Linked DNA regions of Homo sapiens. The protein of the gene in region 1 interacts with the protein of each later gene in a pairwise test. Each region holds a gene or a part of one and is shown in the gene's direction. Other genes may lie near its edges.

Evidence for each region. The genes of interacting proteins can lie anywhere in the genome.
Region 2: the proteins of SH3GL1 (region 1) and CCDC50 interact in binary tests that used the Homo sapiens proteins (3 or more experiments, as listed by UniProt).
Region 3: the proteins of SH3GL1 (region 1) and EEIG1 interact in binary tests that used the Homo sapiens proteins (3 or more experiments, as listed by UniProt).

Annotation. Positions count from the first base shown.
Region 1 is NC_000019.10:4,361,639-4,370,318, reverse strand, and holds part of SH3GL1 (endophilin-A2), read left to right. Parts: intron 1-3,324; coding exon 3,325-3,393; intron 3,394-3,745; coding exon 3,746-3,818; intron 3,819-4,693; coding exon 4,694-4,837; intron 4,838-6,097; coding exon 6,098-6,231; intron 6,232-6,440; coding exon 6,441-6,599; intron 6,600-6,845; coding exon 6,846-6,949; intron 6,950-7,582; coding exon 7,583-7,707; intron 7,708-7,933; coding exon 7,934-7,990; intron 7,991-8,522; coding exon 8,523-8,680. UniProt on the Homo sapiens protein: Implicated in endocytosis. May recruit other proteins to membranes with high curvature.
Region 2 is NC_000003.12:191,395,394-191,399,159, forward strand, and holds the end of CCDC50 (coiled-coil domain-containing protein 50 long isoform), read left to right. Parts: 3' UTR 1-3,266; downstream 3,267-3,766.
Region 3 is NC_000009.12:127,977,990-127,984,920, reverse strand, and holds the start of EEIG1 (early estrogen-induced gene 1 protein), read left to right. Parts: upstream 1-3,931; 5' UTR 3,932-4,783; coding exon 4,784-4,929; intron 4,930-6,931. UniProt on the Homo sapiens protein: Key component of TNFSF11/RANKL- and TNF-induced osteoclastogenesis pathways, thereby mediates bone resorption in pathological bone loss conditions.

The DNA of each region.
Region 1 (8,680 bases):
CCGCTGCACTAGTCAGGGCTACAGCCAGCCTGCAGAGTCTCCCTCGGCAGGAATGGACTGCTGGGACCATGGCCTCAGTCCTCCCTCCCCACCGGTAGGGTCTCTGATGCGGGGGCATTGGGGCTGGCTGCCCCACAACAGGCAGCTCTTGCCTGGCAGATGGCACCAGGGTTAGGAACACTCGCTCCTGACAGCGAGCCCAGAGGCGCCCTCTGGTGAGCCTCCCCGTGGCGCCCAGCTCTGCCGCAGACTCTCGGTCCCCTCCGTGCTCAGCAGTGTGCTGGTGTGGAGACCGCAGTGAGTAGGGCCCCAGCGGGCAGGAGCCCACGCTTGGTTTCCGCGCTTGCGGCCGGCGCTGCACGTGGCCCGGCTGCCTTGCTTTTCCCGTGTTTCCCTTGTGGCTGCTCATCCCTGTGTCCATCTGTGCTGGTTTCTAGCCCATAAGCCTTGGAGAGAAGGGGCCTTACAGGGTTGTGTCCCCTGCCCAGTGCCTGGCCCGTGGGGGACCATCAGTCACCACAAGGGACTTGGCTGGAGCTGAGCAGAGGGACCCGGGTAGTTAGGGCACAGCCTCCCGGGTGTCAGGGGTGCGAGGAGTCAGGCGGTTGTGGGGGTTCAGGAAGTCGTCCTGGGGCTCAGGAAGGCAGGGTCCTGGATTCCCAGGTGAGATGGGCAGGTGGGGCCAGGGCCAGAGCCAGAGGCCACCAGGTGGGTCTTTGGTACCGTGGCGGGTCCCCAGCCCCTCCCCTCAGAGGCAGGATGTGGTCCTCGCCGGTAGGGCCTCTCCTCCTGCCCTGTGAGAGGCAGGGGGCTGGGGAAGGGCCCTGACGGAGCCACTCCTGCCAGCCTGCACACTGGGTCCTGCCTGGGCAGGTCGTGGGGCCGGGGTGGCCTCCGCCCAGAAGGTGTGGTTTCGCAGCCCGCTGGCTTCAGTTCTCCTCCCGGCTTCCCAGAAGAGTCCAGTCTCACATCAGCCACTCATTTCCCTCTCCGGCAGCCGCTGGCTCTGAGCACGCCCTCTCTCGCCACAATCAAAAGAAGTGAAACTGTCCCAGGAAATAGAGTGGAACGCCCCAAAAACACCTAGGGAGGGGGGGCTCCTTCCTCCTAATGCCTTCAGCAGAAATGGAGGGCAGCCCCACTCTCCTGCCCCGCAAGGGACAGTTCCTGCTTCTCACCTGTGCCAGAGTCAGCCCTCCCGCGGTGGGTGTGACGAGGTGATTTTTTTTTTCTTTCTTCTTTCTTTTGAGATGGAGTCTTGCTCTGTCGCCTAGGCTGGAGTGCAGTGGCTGGATCTCTGCTGACTGCAAGCTCCACCTCCCGGGTTCACACCATTCTCCTACCTCAGCCTCCCGAGTAGCTGGGACTACAGGCACCCGCCATCAGGCCCGGCTAATTTTTTTGTATTTTTAGTAGAGACGGGGTTTCACTGTGTTAGCCAGGATGGTCTCGATCTCCTGACCTCATGATCCGCCTGCCTCAGCCTCCCAAAGTGCTGGGATTACAGGCATGAGTCACCGCGCCCGGCCAACGAGGGGATTTTTAAGAAGCTTCCAAGGTGCTGTGTGGCTGAGTTGAGAGCCACCAACCCACAGGCAGGAAAGGGACAGGGGTCAGAGGCATGGGGCCTGTGCTCACTGAATGCCCGGCACACCCCGCACATGAAGGCAGGTGGACAGAAAGGGTCCCGATGCGTGGGTGAGGACAGTCCCGTGGTGTGGGGGCTTCCAGAGCCAAGCCTTGGAGGAGGGCCAGGAATTCCTTGGCAAAGGGGCTGGTGTCTTTTTGGGCAGGTTGCCAGGACACAAGACCAGCCGTGTACTCCGGGCAGGCTACCTTTTGCAGAACTTGGGGTTGGGGGCATTTGCACTCATGGTGCCTTGGGCTGTGACCTCCAGGCATGGGCTAGAGGGTACACCAGGTGCCTGGCGTGGGCAGAGCCCCAGGCTCAAGCTTCTCCTGCCCCCGCACTTCCTGCTCTTGGGTCACTTCCTCCCAGGCTGGGTCCTAAACTCCTGACTGCCCTGCTGGACACCCCCCAGCCCCACACAGCCAACGCAGTGTGGCACCACACGGACCCTCATGGCATCCCTTGGCCACGTCTTGTGACAGCTCGGGGCAGGCAAGCACCAATCAGACCTGGGGAGCACCAGGGGCACAGGCCATGGCCCACGGCACGCAACACCTCACTCTCCTGCCCAGGCCGTGTGTGCACGTCTTCACACAAGTGATCAGACCCGGGATGTTAAATTTGCCGATGACTTCAGAGATGGCACACCCTGTGACACTTGGCCCCCAGAGGGCAGGGCCAAGCTTGTGACCTCAGGCGGCCTCCCTCTGGGAGCCTCCATTTGTGGCAGGGCCTGGCAGCCACTCGGCTCTTCATGAAGCGCTGTGTGCTGGGAAGGGCCTCACACTGTCCATCCTCACTCTGTGCGGCATCCCTTGGCGCCAGGCACACATGGGATACGTGGGGTGAAGAAAGCAACGCCTGTGCTCAGACAGCGGTGCTGGGGTTCAGTGGTTCCCGCCATGTTCCATGGGACATTTCAGGGCTGTTTTTCGCATCCCAGGCGCTGTCAGAGGGAGTGGTTTGGGAATTCAGTGCTTGCTTCTGCCTTCCCACCACACGAGGAAAGACGCTGTAAGTGCCTGTCATTGTCATCGCTTTCACCGTAGCTGAGAGCCGTGAGGACCAAGGTGTGCCAGGCCTGTGTTGACTGCCTTGTGAAACTCAGTGTCCACATGGGGCAAGGGCTGGGCTGTCCCATCCTGCAGACACGGGCACCAGAGCACAGGAGAATGGCGGCCTCCCTGCCCGGCTGCCTGCACCTCTTCTCGTAACTGTCAGCTCCTGCTGCCTCTCCCAGCCAAGCTGGCAGGATTTTTTTTTTTAAGTAGACCCCACATACTCAAGGATGGGGGCAGATCCCCACATTGCTATCTGTGGGGATGTTTGTGTAGGCGCTTCTGGAAGCAGTGTCTTCTGAGCCATGTGTTCTCAGGCTGAGGCTCTGGACTCCACCGTGGCCCAGATGGGGCCTACTGTGGCAGGGTCCCCAGTGGGTATGTGAGTGGCAGTCGGGACACACACAGGTGGGCAGGCCACCCCCACCCTCCCCCTCCCCCTGCAGGCCCACCCTGCTCTGCAGGCAGCGTGTGGCCCTGGGGTGCCCACGGCAGTGCCTGAGGTGTGTGTCCTGATCACTTGGCCTCCTGCCTCCAGCTGTGGATGCGATGTGGCTGGAAGGCGGCTCAGGGCCTCCTGTCCTCTTCTTCCTCCTACCCCTGGGCTCACAGCGTTTCCCCTCTTCTGTCCTCTAGCTGGTCAGTGAGAAGGTCGGAGGGGCCGAGGGGACCAAGCTGGATGATGACTTCAAAGAGATGGAGAAGGTGAGGAAGAAACTGCGTGCTCTGTGTGGTGGTGGCACTGCTGGGGCCTGACCTCTGCCGGGCATAGTGGAGGCGGCCAACCTTGATGGGCCTGGGTCTGGAGTGATGGGGCCCGGCAGGTGTGGAGAGATGGGGTGGTGTGGGGGCCTCGTCAGCTGGACTTGACGGGCACCAGCTCTCTCCCCTGCCGTGGGCAGGCAGCTGTGGGGACATGGCTGAGCTGAAGACATGGAGAGGGGGTTGGGGGGTCCTGGTATGGGCTCTTAGGGCAGGAGGCGGTGCAGCAGCGGGGGTCTTGTGTGCCTTGGGCCCCCACTGGCTGTGGAGTCTTATATGCTGCTTCTCTTCACAGAAGGTGGATGTCACCAGCAAGGCGGTGACAGAAGTGCTGGCCAGGACCATCGAGTACCTGCAGCCCAACCCAGGTGGGTGCTCCAGCCACTGCCAGGGCCTGCCCCAGGCCCTCTGGCCTCTGTGTCAGAGGGAAGGCAGGGGATGACAGAACCGCCAGGCTCATGGGTTGTGGGCTTCAGGCACAGCTGGATCCCGGAGTGCAGAGGCCATCCTTGGTGCTGCATGCTGCCTTTCCACCTCAACCAGCAGCTCAGCCCCTCTGTTGGCTTCACTCTCATGCCGACTGGTTCCTCAGGGCCGTCCCAGCCTTCAACCCCTCTTCCAGCCAGCAGTCCTGGCAGGGAGCCTCTCCCCCAGCTTACTTGTGGGATCCATTTGTATTGGCCGCCCCTCCCCAGTGCCCCTGGCCTGGACTTCACCTCTTGGGCTTGGGACTGGGTCTCCCTGGCTGAGAGACGGGCTTTTCCCCAAGGAAAACCCAAATGCTGGCTCCATAGGAGGCCACGGACAGGGGGCAGACGCACACCCAGCAGTGTCCACTCAGGCCCTGCCAGGAGCAGACCCAAGCGGGCAGCGGAAGGGACACAGCTCATCACCCACCCCGGGAGCCTTGGCCTCAACCACCCCCCGCTGCACATCACTGCTGCGCCTCCTCCCTGGCACCCCCCAGATGAGGGGTCATAGCCACGTTCCAAGAGGAGCAGCCCTTGGAAGGAGGAGGTTTTGCCCCCTGAGGAGCTTGGTCACCTCTCCACCCGCTGCCAGCTCCTTTGAGGCTAGCAGGAGCAGGGAAGGGACCCTCTGGGGATTCCACTGTGCTTTGTGTGGCCTAGGCTGTCCACAGGCACAGGAAGCAAGGGTGGGGAGGAGATGTGGGGGCTGCAGTCTGCCAGGGCAGAGGAGTGCAGGCCTCACAGCCCACACCCACCTGGCCATCCTATCCCAGCCTCGCGGGCTAAGCTGACCATGCTCAACACGGTGTCCAAGATCCGGGGCCAGGTGAAGAACCCCGGCTACCCGCAGTCGGAGGGGCTTCTGGGCGAGTGCATGATCCGCCACGGGAAGGAGCTGGGCGGCGAGTCCAACTTTGGTGAGTGGTGCTCTCTGGAAGCCACGCCCACCGTCCCTGGAGGCCACACCTCAACACAGGCAGGGCAGGTCCAGGCCCTGCATGTGCTGAGTGCCGGGGACGTACAGTGGCCCCCACAGCTTTCCAGCTGCAGAGGTGCAGGAGACTGCACAGACCAACCCATCCAGCACTGGCCAGCAGCTGATAGGGCCCCTTCCTGTAGCTCCAGACCTTCCCCAACTCAAGCCAGCTGCTTCCCCAGGGCCTGGACCCCCCAGCATCTGTCCTTCCACCTGTTAAGGGCAAACCTAGGCCCTTTTAGGAGCATTGGAGGGTCTGGTTTAACGTCCAGCATCGATTCGGATTTTAGGATCCTTTGTTTTGCCCTGAGTTCCAATTTCCGGGCCCTGGGCTTAGAGTGTTGGGGGGCTGTTAGAAGTTGGGATGGGGCCAAGTGTGGTGGCTCATGCCTGTAATCCCAACACTTTGGGAGGCCAAGGCAGGTGGATCACCTGAGATCGGGAATTCGAGACCAGCAAGACCAATATGGAGAAACCCCACCCCGCTTCTACTAAAAAAAAAAAAATATATATATATATATATACACACACACACACACACACACACACACACACAATTAGCCGGGTGTGGTAGTGCATGCCTGTAACCCCAGCTACTCGGGAGGCTGAGGCAGGAGAATCACTTGAACCCAGGAGGTGGAGGTTGCAGTGAGCCGAGACTATGAAAAAACAAAACAAAACAAAACAAAACAAAAACCGGGTGCGGTGGCTCACGCCTGTAATCCCAACACTTTGGGAGGCCGAGGCGGGCGGATCACAAGGTCAGGAGTTCGAGACCGGTGTGGTCTATATGGTGAAACCCCGTCTCTATTAAAAATACAAAAATTAGCTGGATGTGGTGGCAGGCCCCTGTAATCCCCCTTACTCAGGAGGCTGAGACAGGAGAATTGCTTGAACCTGGGAGGCAGAGGTTGCAGTGAGCTGAGATCATGCCACTGCACTGCAGCCTGGGCAACAGCGAGACTTCATCTCAAAGAAGTTGGAAAGGATCCAGGTGTGGGGGTGAACGCCTGTGGTCCCGGCTACTTGGGAGGCTGAGGTGCCAGCATGGCTTGAGCCCAGTTTGAGGCCTGCAGTGAGCTGGTACAGCGCCACTGCGTTCCAGCCTGTGAAACGCTATTTCAAAAACAAAGGCTGAGGAGTGTCTCAGTCTAGTGGTCCCAGGCCCGGTATGATGGCTTCCCCCACCACTTCTCCACAGGTGACGCATTGCTGGATGCCGGCGAGTCCATGAAGCGCCTGGCAGAGGTGAAGGACTCCCTGGACATCGAGGTCAAGCAGAACTTCATTGACCCCCTCCAGAACCTGTGCGAGAAAGACCTGAAGGAGATCCAGGTGCTGCTCCTGCGCCAGCCTGGGGCCTGTCCCTTCCCCCTGCCGGATGGGGCAGCCCCATTCCTGCCACCCTCACCTCCAGCCTCGGCACTGCCCTCTGGGTCTCAGGCAGGCAGGATCCCCAGTGGTGCAGGGACAGTGGGTCAAAGCCATGCGTGGGGCGGCCCTCTGGCCGCTACTGGTGTGACCCATGTCCCCCACGTCTCCAGCACCACCTGAAGAAACTGGAGGGCCGCCGCCTGGACTTTGACTACAAGAAGAAGCGGCAGGGCAAGATCCCCGATGAGGAGCTACGCCAGGCGCTGGAGAAGTTCGAGGAGTCCAAGGAGGTGGCAGAAACCAGCATGCACAACCTCCTGGAGACTGACGTGAGTAGCTCGGGGTGTCACATCCTGAGAAGACCTATGCCCTTGGGAGGCCGGGGTGGTGCCTCAAGGGAGCTGGAGGACAGATCGGCACCTACCTGGCCGCTGCAGCAGGGGAGGTGGAGGGTATGGGCCCCAGTCCCCTGTCCCCTCTCAGCCCCCTTGCCTCCTGTGGCTTCACCTCGGGAGTCAGGGAAGGCACAGGACAGTGGCACTGGCAGGAGCCCCTGAGCCCTACTGTCCCCACAGATCGAGCAGGTGAGTCAGCTCTCGGCCCTGGTGGATGCACAGCTGGACTACCACCGGCAGGCCGTGCAGATCCTGGACGAGCTGGCGGAGAAGCTCAAGCGCAGGTGAGCCCAGGGCCTTGGTCTCTCCAGAGTCTGGGCTGCCATGCGCCCTCTGCCAGCGCAAGTGGGCAGCACACCTCGCTGTGGGGTGAGCACATGGCAGAGCAGCATCCTGGATTCTTCCTGGGGACTGAGTGGAAAGGCCTGGGGGGCCGCGAGGTCAGAGGAGCTGGGGCTCTGAGAACTCTGAGTCAACACCCAGCCCTGCCCCGATGCAGGCCCCGGGGACTCCCTCCCTGGCTGCACGTTGCTGCTGCCACAGGAACACCCAGGCTCCCCTCCCTGAATGCAGAGGCCAGACCTGCTTCAGGGGCCTTGGCGTATGTGGGGCGCCGTCCGTGGTGGGGAATTGGGGGAGGAGGCAGGGGATGCGACTGGGGGTGTTGTAGGTAGATGCTGTGGCAGGCCCCAGCTGCTTGGCAATCTCTGGGATGCCTCCAAGGTGGGGGTCCAGGCTGGAGGCCCTCTGGGTAGACATCCCAGTCTAGCTGTGTCCCAGGGTCCATGTGTCACAACCCCACTGACGGCCTCTTCCTGCAGTCCCAGGCCAGGTCATTAGGCAGCAGCATAAATACAAGAGTGGGGCTGCCTCGGCCGTGACACGGGCTCGGTCCACTCACGCCTCTCCCTTCACAGGATGCGGGAAGCTTCCTCACGCCCTAAGCGGGAGTATAAGCCCAAGCCCCGGGAGCCCTTTGACCTTGGAGAGCCTGAGCAGTCCAACGGGGGCTTCCCCTGCACCACAGCCCCCAAGATCGCAGGTAATGGGGCATGGAGCCCTCTTGCGGAGGCAAATGCCAGCGGGTGGGAGTGGCCAAGGGCTGGCCCTGTCCTGGGTCTCTGAGCGCCAGACTCCTGGGTGCAGCTCTCAGCCGTGCTCCATCTGGACCGCCAAGGCAGACGGGAAGGGCTGGCCCCAGCCTTCTGCAGAAGGGGCCCTGCCCGACCGTTTTGAGCCCACAGCCTCCTCGTTTTGCTTGTGTTTAGCTTCATCGTCTTTCCGATCTTCCGACAAGCCCATCCGGACCCCTAGCCGGAGCATGCGTGAGTGTTCCCAGGCCCGCCTCGACCTCAGTGCTGCCTTCTCGGCCATTCGGGGAGGGTGTTTCTCCTCCCGCCCTGTTCTCTGCCCATCTCAAGCAGGGAGGGGCCAGGCTCGTGCAGCAGTAGGGGGCACAGGCCCCACAGCCTGCAAGATGCCACCCCTCTGGGTCTCAGCCTCACAGTGTGAATGAGGGATTGCCAAGGGCACTAGCCCAGCTAGCTCTAGGCTGTGTGGTGGCTACAAGGGCTTGAGGGCATCTGGTCACTCCCTGTCACCGCAGCAGCACCGGGTGTCCCCAGCACTTCCCAGGAGTAGCTTTGGTGACCACTTAAACCAAGCTTCTCCCATCCTCCCTCCTGGGTGGCAGTAGAGGCCGGACCCCAGAAGTGGCAGGGGCAGGGGGTGGCCCAGGCAGGGCAGAGGGGAGGCCCATGCCCACCCACACGCTCCAGGTCACAGCAGGTCTGAGACCCCAGACTGGGCGGGGTGAGGCGTAGCAGCCCCAGCCCCACAGCCCGCTCCCGCCCCCAGCGCCCCTGGACCAGCCGAGCTGCAAGGCGCTGTACGACTTCGAGCCCGAGAACGACGGGGAGCTGGGCTTCCATGAGGGCGACGTCATCACGCTGACCAACCAGATCGATGAGAACTGGTACGAGGGCATGCTGGACGGCCAGTCGGGCTTCTTCCCG
Region 2 (3,766 bases), on another chromosome or scaffold:
ATATGGTGCATTCAGTTTACTCCACAAGTGGTTAACATTTTAAGTCCTAGATTTTTTATGTCTTGCCTTTGTATAAGCATCGCTTTGGGGAATACCAAGATGATTCATTATTCAGTGATTATTTTCTTGAAAGATAACTATGATGATTGGCTGTAAAATCTTCACCCTAATAAAGGAGTGAGATCTCTGTGTAAACAGCTTTCTGAAGGACTGATAATAGAATAGAACTTGCAGCCAAAGGCTTTTTCCCTTTTGAGAAGACGGTATTTGTGTAAGGAGTGCTAAGGTAGACTTCATTGTACATAGAGTGCCATATTCTGTTGAAACGATCATAACAAAATCAAAACCTCATGCTTCAGCAAAAAGGAAAAAAGATTTTTAAATTACTTTGTCTATTACTTACTGCTCATAGAGAAGTGACTATATAAAATGGTCCAATTTTCTCATTTCTGGTGGTGCCTGTGAGTCTTAAAGCCATATCTGCTTATCTTACTGTTGATAGAATACTTTTTTTCTTTTTAGCCCATGATAAGTAATATGGGCAGGTAGAAGCAAACTGGAGACTGTCCTGTTAATGCTGCATGGGGCACAATGTCTTTCAAATTATTGGTGGAAGAATCTCTTTTATCCATGGCGAGAGGTAAGAATATTAAAGAGTCAGGATATTGTTGCTCCTGGTATTTAACAACTGTCATTAGAAATGCTGAAATTTAATTGTAGAGAAGTCAAGAAAGAAAGAGTAAACTGAGAAAATCTTACTACTACAGAGTCACTTTTACAATGAGACCTGCACTTTATGCCAGCACTGTTTGTGAGGAGCAGTACTGCCTTAAATTAGTTTGACTCTGACTGATGTCAGTGTACGTTACTTCCTTTATGTGACTGACAGTCAGCTTTCCATTGAGATATAACATTCACAGATGATCCCCAAGTATCCTTGTCATCAGAAGCTTTGGACCTTTTCTGCCACTGACTTGTGGCTGATCTGTAACACAATAAATACATAATTTTATTTCATGTTGTCTGTCCACCTCTGAATAAGCAGTGGCATGACCAAAAAGACTGGTAGAAGGAGAGAATTTCTTGGCCAAATCCTTCATACCAGGTACCACTTCTTGAGTAACTGAGAGTTGACTGTCTTCTATGGTGACTACATAGAAGATATTTCCAAAGGTTCTGTTATGCAGTGAAGACATTCAGATTATTTGTAAGAATTTCACCAACACCCTTGTGTATTGAAATGCTTAACCATTAACAGGGAAAAAAAAGGAGAAAACCGAACAAAACAGAGACATTTACTTGAAATGGGAGGTTTGCTAATGTGAAGAGTGTTTCTGTTTTATTACTTATAAGAGAAAAGCAGGAAAACTTTTGCTTTGATAAGAAAGACACCAGAGTGGTGATTCTGTTTGATGCCACAGGCTAACACAATCGTGTAATCATGTTGAGTTGTAGAAATATATGGCCCTAAAAACCATTCTCTTTCCCTTATATATATAAATATGTGAACACTGCCTAGTAACATTTTAATAGATTTAAGATGCATTTGTACATTCTCAGCAAACTAGAAGAAAATGTTTTTTCTCTTTTTGAGTTAACTTCATAGCATAGAGAACCAGCACTGTGCAGGTTTCAGCATTTCAGATAAGGGCATAATTAATTGTGTAACTTAATGCCCTGTTATTCATTGCTGAGGTTCATATAAAGAATAGAAAAATTGAAAGATGGGTTTGGGCGACATTTTCTTCCCAAAAGATCAAGTAAGGAGTAAGAACAAGTAAGGGAAGACAGCTAAGAGAACATACTATGACATATCATAGAATTGGGATACATTTTTGTTGCACTGGATTTCAGGCTATACTGCTAAAATAATTTCTACCTGTTAAATTTTGTGAGAGGGTTTTTGACATCAGAATTTTTGTATTTCTGGTCAAATTGGTCTTGGAAATCCCTATGGTCTCTAATTTCAGCTCTTGCTGTAAACTGCAAGCCAAATGCTCTTTCTCAGAAAGAGCTATATTTTTCTCTTCTTACAGGCAACCCAATATTTATTTCATAAAGTGTTATAAATATTGAGAAGATACACTGGGGAGATAGCATATAAAAATGATGCTCCAAAATGAGAATTCTATATGGGGCTTTCCCTAAGAAGAATCCATCCCAGCACATATTTTGAAAAGGTGCTGAATTAAAAAGTACAAGAGTTTGCTCATATAAATCAAGTTGCCCAGGAAACCTGAGGTGATGCTATCATTTGTCTCATAATTTAGAAACGTGATCTCTTGAGAGAGAGACTACGCATTGCCTGGGCACTTTCAGATTCCTTAGGAAGTGCCCCTTTGATATTTGGAATGTGGATATATTTATAAAACAAATGGATTGTTATTCCAAATCCACATGGATTTATAACCAAGCCCCAGAAGAATAGGCAGCTTTGAAATAGCTAGTTCGTGGAATTGAACAGAACCTTGATGGAATGCAGTTGCCTGTGTGAGGACAGAAAACAAAGAGGCTGCCTCAGACCACATGCCTATCTAGAGATTAAGTGAATTTGTGAGGGACATTTTGTGGATGCCTTAAAGATGACCAGTGGTGGGTTCTGATGGGAATATATACACTCATCTGGACTAGGCCAATGGAAGCAGTCTCTTTCAGTTCACCTCCGTACAGCACAAGTTGTTCCTGCTCATGACCTCATTGAGGAAAATGAGAATTGTGGTGCTGGTGACTTTCATGTGTCTTGGGAGGTTGAGGTGTTCAACATCGTTAAGGCACTCCCAAAACGCAAACCTCCTTTTTTAAATGCCAATTGTACATCTACATTAATTCATCTATGCAAACTTGTGTTTTCATGGTTTGTTTTTTACACTATATTTCTCATTAGGTTCTTTAAACATCAGGTTTAATATTGATATTATGAATAATTTTTAAACCAAAGTATTCTATAAGTCTGTGTGCTTTGTTTTCCTGGATGGTTTGACCAAGGTAAACATCAGTCTTGTCCTTCTCTCTTAATAAAGTCATCCATTTGTTAAGTCAGTGGTCTCTGTCTCATGTTTTTGTTTTGTTTCTTTACAGCATTCAAGGACAGGGAAACTTACGAGAGTCTTATTATAATTATTATTATTTACAAAATGACCCTAATAGGTCTGTTTAGTAACAGTGAAATTTTTTCTTACTCCATTTCCATACACTTTCTGTAAATATGTATAACATGATAATGATGCCTGGTGTATTGAAATCCTCAATAAATACTGCCAAGTGTGGATCAGTTGGAGAAGTAGCTTTGTTTTGTGTGTGGTGTTTCGTGGTTTGATTGATATATTTGGGAGGAAAAAAAACAGGTAAGTGGATGTTCACACAATAATTCCAGTGATTAAAGACCCCATGCACAACTCTGCACTATACCTGACACCTTGTGGACACTTCAATGTATTTTGAGAAATGGATATTAATAACTGATTTATTCAATATTTTACCTTCATAAGAATTTTTTTTTTCTTATTTGGTTTGATAGAATAGCCACAATGTAGGAAATGATTCTGCAAAAATTAGGTATCTTAAATATAATATTTTCAATGACTACTAAATTTATTTTTAAAGATGTCACTATTTAGCCACCCCTACAGTAGATTCTCTAGGCCTCAGATTCCTCTGTGGCAAATATAGCAGGAAATCTAAATGATTTCTGTAGTCTCTGCTAGATCCTGAGTAGTACCAGTGATGTGCAGGTGATACTGTTTTATTTAGTTGAAGATTAGTATGT
Region 3 (6,931 bases), on another chromosome or scaffold:
ACCCTGGTTACCCTGGTCAATCTCCCACTGGGATGGCTGCAATTGCCTCCTCACTGTCTGCCTGCTTCTGTTCTTGCCCCCTGCCAATCAATCCATTCTCAGTAGCCAGAAGGAGTGTTTAAAAATGTTAATTTGGGCCGAGGCAGGCAGATCACCTGAGGTCGGGAGTTTGAGACCAGCCTGACCAACATGGAGAAACCACGTCTCTACTAAAAATACAAAATTAGCCGGGCGTGGTGGCACATGCCTATAATCCCAGCTACTTGGGAGACTGAGGCAGGAGAATCGCTTGAACCTGGGAGGTGGAGGTTGTGGTGAGCCAAGATCAAGCCATTACACTCCAGCCTGGGCAACAAGAGCAAAACTCTGTCTGAAAAAAAAAAAAAAAAAAAAAAAGTTAATTTGGCCAGGCGCATGGTGCATGCCTGCAATCCCAGCACTTTGGGAGGCCAAGCCGGGTGGATCACCTGAGGTCAGGAGTTTGAGTCCCGTCTGACCAACATGGTGAAACCCGTCTCTATTAAATACAAAAAATTAGCCGGGCATGGTGGCGCATGCCTGTAATCTCAGCTACTTGTGAGGCTGAGGCAGGAGAATCGCTTGAACCCGGGAGGCAGAGGTTGCAGTGAGCCGAGATCGCGCCATTGCACTCCAGCCTGTGCAACAAGAGCAAAACTCAGTCTCAAAACACACACACACACACACACACACACAAAATGTTAATTTGCATCTTGTCACCCTTCTGCCTGCTCACATGCTCCAGTGCTGTCCCGTGGGGCTTAGAATAAACTCTAAACACCTGCTAGAGGTTGCAGTGAGCTGAGATCATGCCACTGCACTACAGCCTGGGCAACAGAGTGAGACCGGGACTCAAAACAAAACAAAACAAAACAAAAAACACCTCCTAGGCCCACAAGGGCCCATGTGCACAGGCTCGTCTGCCCCACCGCTCTCTGTCCCCTGTACTCACTCTATTCTAGTCACACGGAGTCCTCCAAACATGTCAGCTCATGCCTCTGTCCCCAGAGCTTCCTGTACCTGGGTCCGCCTTATTACTTAGGTCTTGGCTAAGATGACACCTCATAAAAGCCTTCCTTGACCACCCTATCTGTATCAGGACTTCCAACCCAATCATTCTCTGACCTTTCCCTGGGTTTCCTTCTCCAGACGACTTGCCTTGTGGTCTGGCAAACAATTATCTTGTTTGGTACTAGGTTCCTTATGCGTCTGGTCATGGCCTCGGGGAGGTAGGATAGGCCATGCTTGGGAATTTGGGAGGCTGGGGAAGTGTGGAGCTGCCTATTCCTTTCACAGGCACAGCCTCTTGAAGTCCTCACCACATTCCGGAAAGATGGAAATCCTGATTCCCATTTTACAGGTGAAGAAGCGTGGCTGAGATGGGAAAGTTTACGGTATTCTTCAAGATTCCTTTCTACATATGCAAAGGTGCACCCAAAGCTTGTGTGGCCCCGGTTGTCAATGGCAAAGTAGCCGGATTTTGAACTCAGTTCTGTTGCAAGTGGTCCCAGCCATACCACACCGAACCCCTTACCAATTCAGAGACCTGAACCAAGGCCACACCGCCACCATGCAGCAGAGCCAGGATCCTAACTCAGGCTTGTCTCACCCAAATCTAGCATGCTGTCCTGGCACCATACTCTCCCCCTTCCCCAGGCACCATCAGGGAAATGAGGGAAGGGAAATTTCCTGGGTTCCCAGGCCACAGGCCGCAGAGAGATAAATACCCAACCCCAGCTAAACCTGGCAGTCAGGCCCACCCTGCTTCCTGTTGGGTGGCCCAAGGTTACTCAGGGTCATAGCTGAGGAGCCAGCCAGTCACTGGGATGTCCTTGGCTGGCTCTCCACTCTGAAGTCTCCTCCTGGGGTCAGGTAGCCACAGGCTCTGCCCTTGTGGAGCAGGCCCAGCCAAGATAGTGAGGAGAGCACACCCCACACTGTGTGCAGCACAGTTCAGCACTCTGAGCCTGTGCTTCAGGGGAAAGACCCCAGGCAAGTGTTTTAAATCCTCTAGGCCTTAACTTCCCCGTTTGCCAAAGGGGACACACAGTCACATTGGAAGCTGCTGTTAACACTTTTCTTTAATCTGGTTAACTCTCTGATCTAAATTATGGGACAAACTGGAGAGAAATATGGATCGCCACCCATCTTACAGCTGGGAAGAAGGAAGAAACCAGAGTCCTTGGTCACCACATGTCCAGACCTAACTCATCCCTAAGTCCAGTCAAACCTGTCTCTCAGATGCCTCAGACCTATCCTCTTGCTTTCTCCACAATGCTGAGGTTGCACTGTCATCATCTCTTGCCTGCATCACCAAACAAACTCCTCATCCACCTGTTTCCCAGCTTGTCCCCTTCACACTGCCCACAGCCAGAGCAAGCTTCTTAGGACAAAAAGCAAATCTGGGCCTTGCCTCGTGGCTCACGCCTGTAATCCCAGCACTCTGAGAGGCCGAGGTGGGCGGATCACCTGAGGTCAGGAGTTTGAGACCAGCCTGGCGAACACGGTGAAACCCGGTCTGTACTACAAATACAAAATTAGCCGGGCGTGGCGGCGCGCACCTGTAATCCCAGCTACTTAGGAGGCTGAGGCAGGAGAATCGCTTGAACCCAGGAGGCGGAGGTTGCAGTGAGTGGAAATTGCACCACTGCACTCCAGCCTGGGCAAAAAGAGCGAAACTCCGTCTCAAAAAAAAATAAATAAATAAAAAATAAAGCAAATCTGACCAGGACACTCTCCATCTCAACGCGTGTCCGTGGCTTCCTCCTTACGGTCTTACAAGACTCTGGGAGATCTGGCCTTTCCAGCCCCATCTCTTGCCCCTCTCTCCAACTGCCACAGTACAGCCAGATGTAGTTGCCTGAAACTTTCTGCGGGCACCACGATCTCCAGCCACCAGGTCTCTGGCAGCTCCCTATGCCTGGACCCTGCGTGACTCAGGGCACGCATCCTGTGGATGGCTTGGCTCCCTTTGTTCGAGACTTTCTGAGTCTGCGCCCCAACCCATGTCAGGTGCCTCTTATCCCCTGTTACAACTCTTACCCATAGATTTGTCGCTGCCTGTGTCCCTGTCTGCTTCTCCACCTGGTGGTCTTGAGCTGGGAGCATTTGGGAAGGGCAAGCCCACCAGGTTCTCCACTAGGTCCCAGCCTGGCTTAGTGGAGACTGCCCCTAAACATTTGGGGACTGGATGAATGAACCACAATATGCCGAGGGGCCTGGGAGGTACGAGGCTTTCGAGTGGGTTCTGCCCCCAGAACAGCTAACTAGTCAGTGAGACCAGTCACGCTGGGCAAGAAACTAAAGGACAACAGAAAGCTTAGATAACAGCTTGGAATGTTACAAGCTGGGTCACAAGGCTGCGTGATGGACTGAGCCAGAGCCACCTCCTCGGCGAAGCCTTCCAGACGCTTCTCTGCTCATTGCTGAGGGGCACTAGAGATTCAGGGCGAGCAAGCGACCTGCCAGGGGCTCTCTCTGGGCGCCAGCTTTCTGAGAAAGGAGACTCGCTACCTTCCGGGCCTGCTTCAGGGTTCTACGAGCTCAAGTCTGGCGGGACCCTGGAAGGCCGCTGCAGCCACAAACTGTTTCTCCTTGTCATTGTTTCTTCTTTTCTTCTGCTCGCGCTCTCCCTGCCCCGCCAGCCCTGCGACCTCCCACTGCCTTCCCAGGGCCCCTCTCCCTTCCCTCAGCCCCGCCCCGCCCTAGGAGGCGGGCCCGGCCGCGCGGTGCACCAATCCGAGAGCCCCGAGCCGCCTCTGCCTCCCGCGAGTCCCACCCCACGCCACCGCCCACCAATCGCGCTGCGCGCCCGCCTAGCCGGGCCGCGCAATAGCGGGAGGGCTGAGCCGCCGGCGCCCCGCCCCTGCCGTGCTCGGCGGCGGCTAGGCGGGCGGCCGCGCGGGGCCCAGGCATTCTCCAAGCGGCGCCTCGCAGCATCGGGCTCTGGCTGCAGCGTCGGGGCCGCAGGGGGCGGCGCTGCTGCTCGAAGGGTGCCGGGCGAGGCGGGCGCCACCGGCCGGGCCGAAGGGCGCCTCAGCTCCGCCGGGGCCCGCGGCGCGGGTCCCAGGATCGAGGAGGAGGCGGCGCCTCCGCTGCCCGGGGCCGGCCCGGTGCCTGCCCTGAGGAGGCCCGAGGCCGGACGTTCCCGGCCCGCAGCGACCCCGACGCGCCTCCTGGAGAGGCCCCCGAGCTCCTGGCAGCCCCCTGGGGGTGCCCCACCTTCCCCGGCTTCACCTGCGCTGGCCGCCCGGCACCCAGGTGCGGGGGCGTGAGCGGCGAGGGCACCTCCCCCGGCCGCCAGCGGGGCGGGGGCGGGGCCGCCCTCCGCCCTCAGCCTTACCGGCCAGCCAGCCCGCCCGCCGCCCTCAGTCTCACCGGTCCGCCCGGCCGCGCGGCGTGAGCTCCCCGGACATCGCGTCTCGGGATGCTGCAAGCCAGCGCGGCCGCTCGCGCGCAGCCCCGCACCTCCGCCCCTGCCTCTGCCTCCTGGGCCATGCCCTGCTGTTTACATGCCGGTGAGGTCCCCGGCCGCTCCGAACCCCTCCGAGCCCCGGCTCCCCGAGGGTGAAGCCCGCCGGCCCGCGAACTGGACTGGTGGATCTCTCAGACCTGGGGCCCCGGACTCCGATCTCCGCCGTCTCCGCCACCATCAGGGCGGGATCCGGCTCTGGTGTTTTGAGGAGGGGGTGTGGTGTAGGGAAAGGAATCCCGTCCCTCTCCACCTTTTTTCGCCTTCGGGGCTTCAGACTCAGGGAACTCGCTCATGGCTTTCTTGATGAAGAAGAAGAAATTCAAATTCCAAACTACTTTCACCCTGGAGGAGCTGACTGCGGTTCCCTTCGTGAACGGGGTCCTCTTCTGCAAGGTCCGGCTGCTGGATGGAGGGGATTTTGTCAGCTTGTCGTCAAGGTAGGAGCTGGGGCGGTCGCGCCTGCAGCAGCGGGGGTGATGAGCGAGACCTAGACACTTGGCAAGTGTGGAAGGGCCCCTTGGGGCCGGTGTGAGGAGGATCCGGGGGATTCTGTGTGCCTGGGGCAGGTTGCACAAGGCAGGACTGGGCCTGAGGCAGTTGGCAGGGTGCCAGGCAGCCGCCAGCCAAATACCTGGGGGTCTAGTCTTTCAGCCTTCTCTTGGGGCCCTGCGTGCCGCCTGCAGTAGGTCCATTCTGCAGACTTGCATGTACAGCCTATCAGGGATTTGTACCCTGAGCGATTGTGCAGGGGAGGGGTGTTCAGGCCACCTTGCACCCGAACTGGCCACTGGGGCTGTCATATGATTCAAGAGTCCAGGCCAGCCACGGGTTCCCCGGCACCCCCAGGCGCCTGGGAAGGCCCGATCGCAGGCACTCCCTAGTCTGGCTGGAGGGAGGTGGCTGGATTTTGGCCTACCCAGCCCCCTCCGAGTGACTATCCTCCTCTGGCTGGAGCTGGGCTGCTTTGCATTGCAAATACCCTTGTCGAGGAGGCTGCTGCCCTCTCTGAAAGAGGCTCCGTTGAGTTTGGTTTTGTGTTGTTCGTCCCCATCCTGGCAGGTCCAGCTGCCCAGCTTGTTGCTGAATGCAACTGAGTTCCCAGGCTGTCCCTTGCCAATTGGGCCCAGCTGGGGTCACATCATCCTGGCCTGTCTCCGAAGAGCCTTGGACTTCTACAGATGGGAGTGTGACTCTTGACTCTGTTACTTTCTGGGCCTCCTCTTCTGGAAAGTGAGCCTAATACAGGTGGAGAAGCTGCAGCAGCGAGAACTTAGGGCAGGCTGGATGCTGTGGCTTACTCCTGTAATCCCAGCACTTTGGGAGGCCTACGTGGAAGACTTGCTTGAGGCCAGGAGTTCAAGACCAGCGTGGACGACTTAGATTCCTGTCTCTATTTTTTTTTCTTTTTTGGGGGGACGCGATTTAACTCTGTTGCCCAGGCTGGAGTGCAGTGACACAAGCATGGCTCACTGCAACCTCTACCTCCCGGGTTCAATCAATTCTCATATCTCAGTCTCCTGAATAGCTGGGATTACAGGTGCCAACCACCACACCCAGCTAATTTTTTTTAAATTTTAATTTTGTTTATTTTTTAGATGGAGTCTCACTCTGTTGCCTAGGCTGGAATGCAGTGGCGTGATCTTGGGTCACTGCAACCTCCACCTCCTGGGTTCAAGCGATCCTCCTGCCTCAGCGTCCTCAGTAGCTGAGATTACAGGCGCACGCTACCACGATAATTTTTTTGTATTTTTAGTAGAAATGGGGTTTTACCATGTTGGCGAGGCTGGTCTCGAACTCCTGACTGCAAATGATCCACCCCGCACCCCGCCCCCTGGCCTTCTAGAGTGCTGGGATTACAAGTGTGAGCCACTGCACCCGGCCTCTCTCTTTTTAAAAAATAAAAATGAAATAAAATAGTATGCGGGCAGGGCCTGGCCGAGTGCCTGGGACACGCTGCTTCCCTACCTGGTCTGCCCTTTGCTCCCTGGGCCTCCTTGTGGGCCCTGTTAGCCAGAGCTGCCTCCCTGTTCTGAGAGCCCATGTGTGCGTGTTATAGGCGGAGAAACTGAGGCCCAGAAAGAGGAAGTCAGTGGCTTGCCAGGGACCTCGAAGGAGTCTGTTATTAACTGAACTTCGCTGGTTTGGGGGCCTGCTGGCTGAATCCAGAGGTCAAACACTCTGCTGGGAGGAGGGGAAGGGAGGGGAACTGCACAGCCAGGCTCAGATTTAGGAATCTCCGGTGTGGACAGGGTGGGGTGCTTTTTCTGAGCACTGGCTCCCTGTTCTGTTGGGAGCTGCTTATCTGAGGAATTTGGACAAGGGCTGCCCCTTGTGGTGGGGGTGGCTGGCCTCCTTGGTTGCCTGGGAAGCCTGTGATCCTGAGGCCACCCACACAGCAGTCTGAGGTTTCAGAGAGAAGGCTGTGCTCACAGCTAGGGC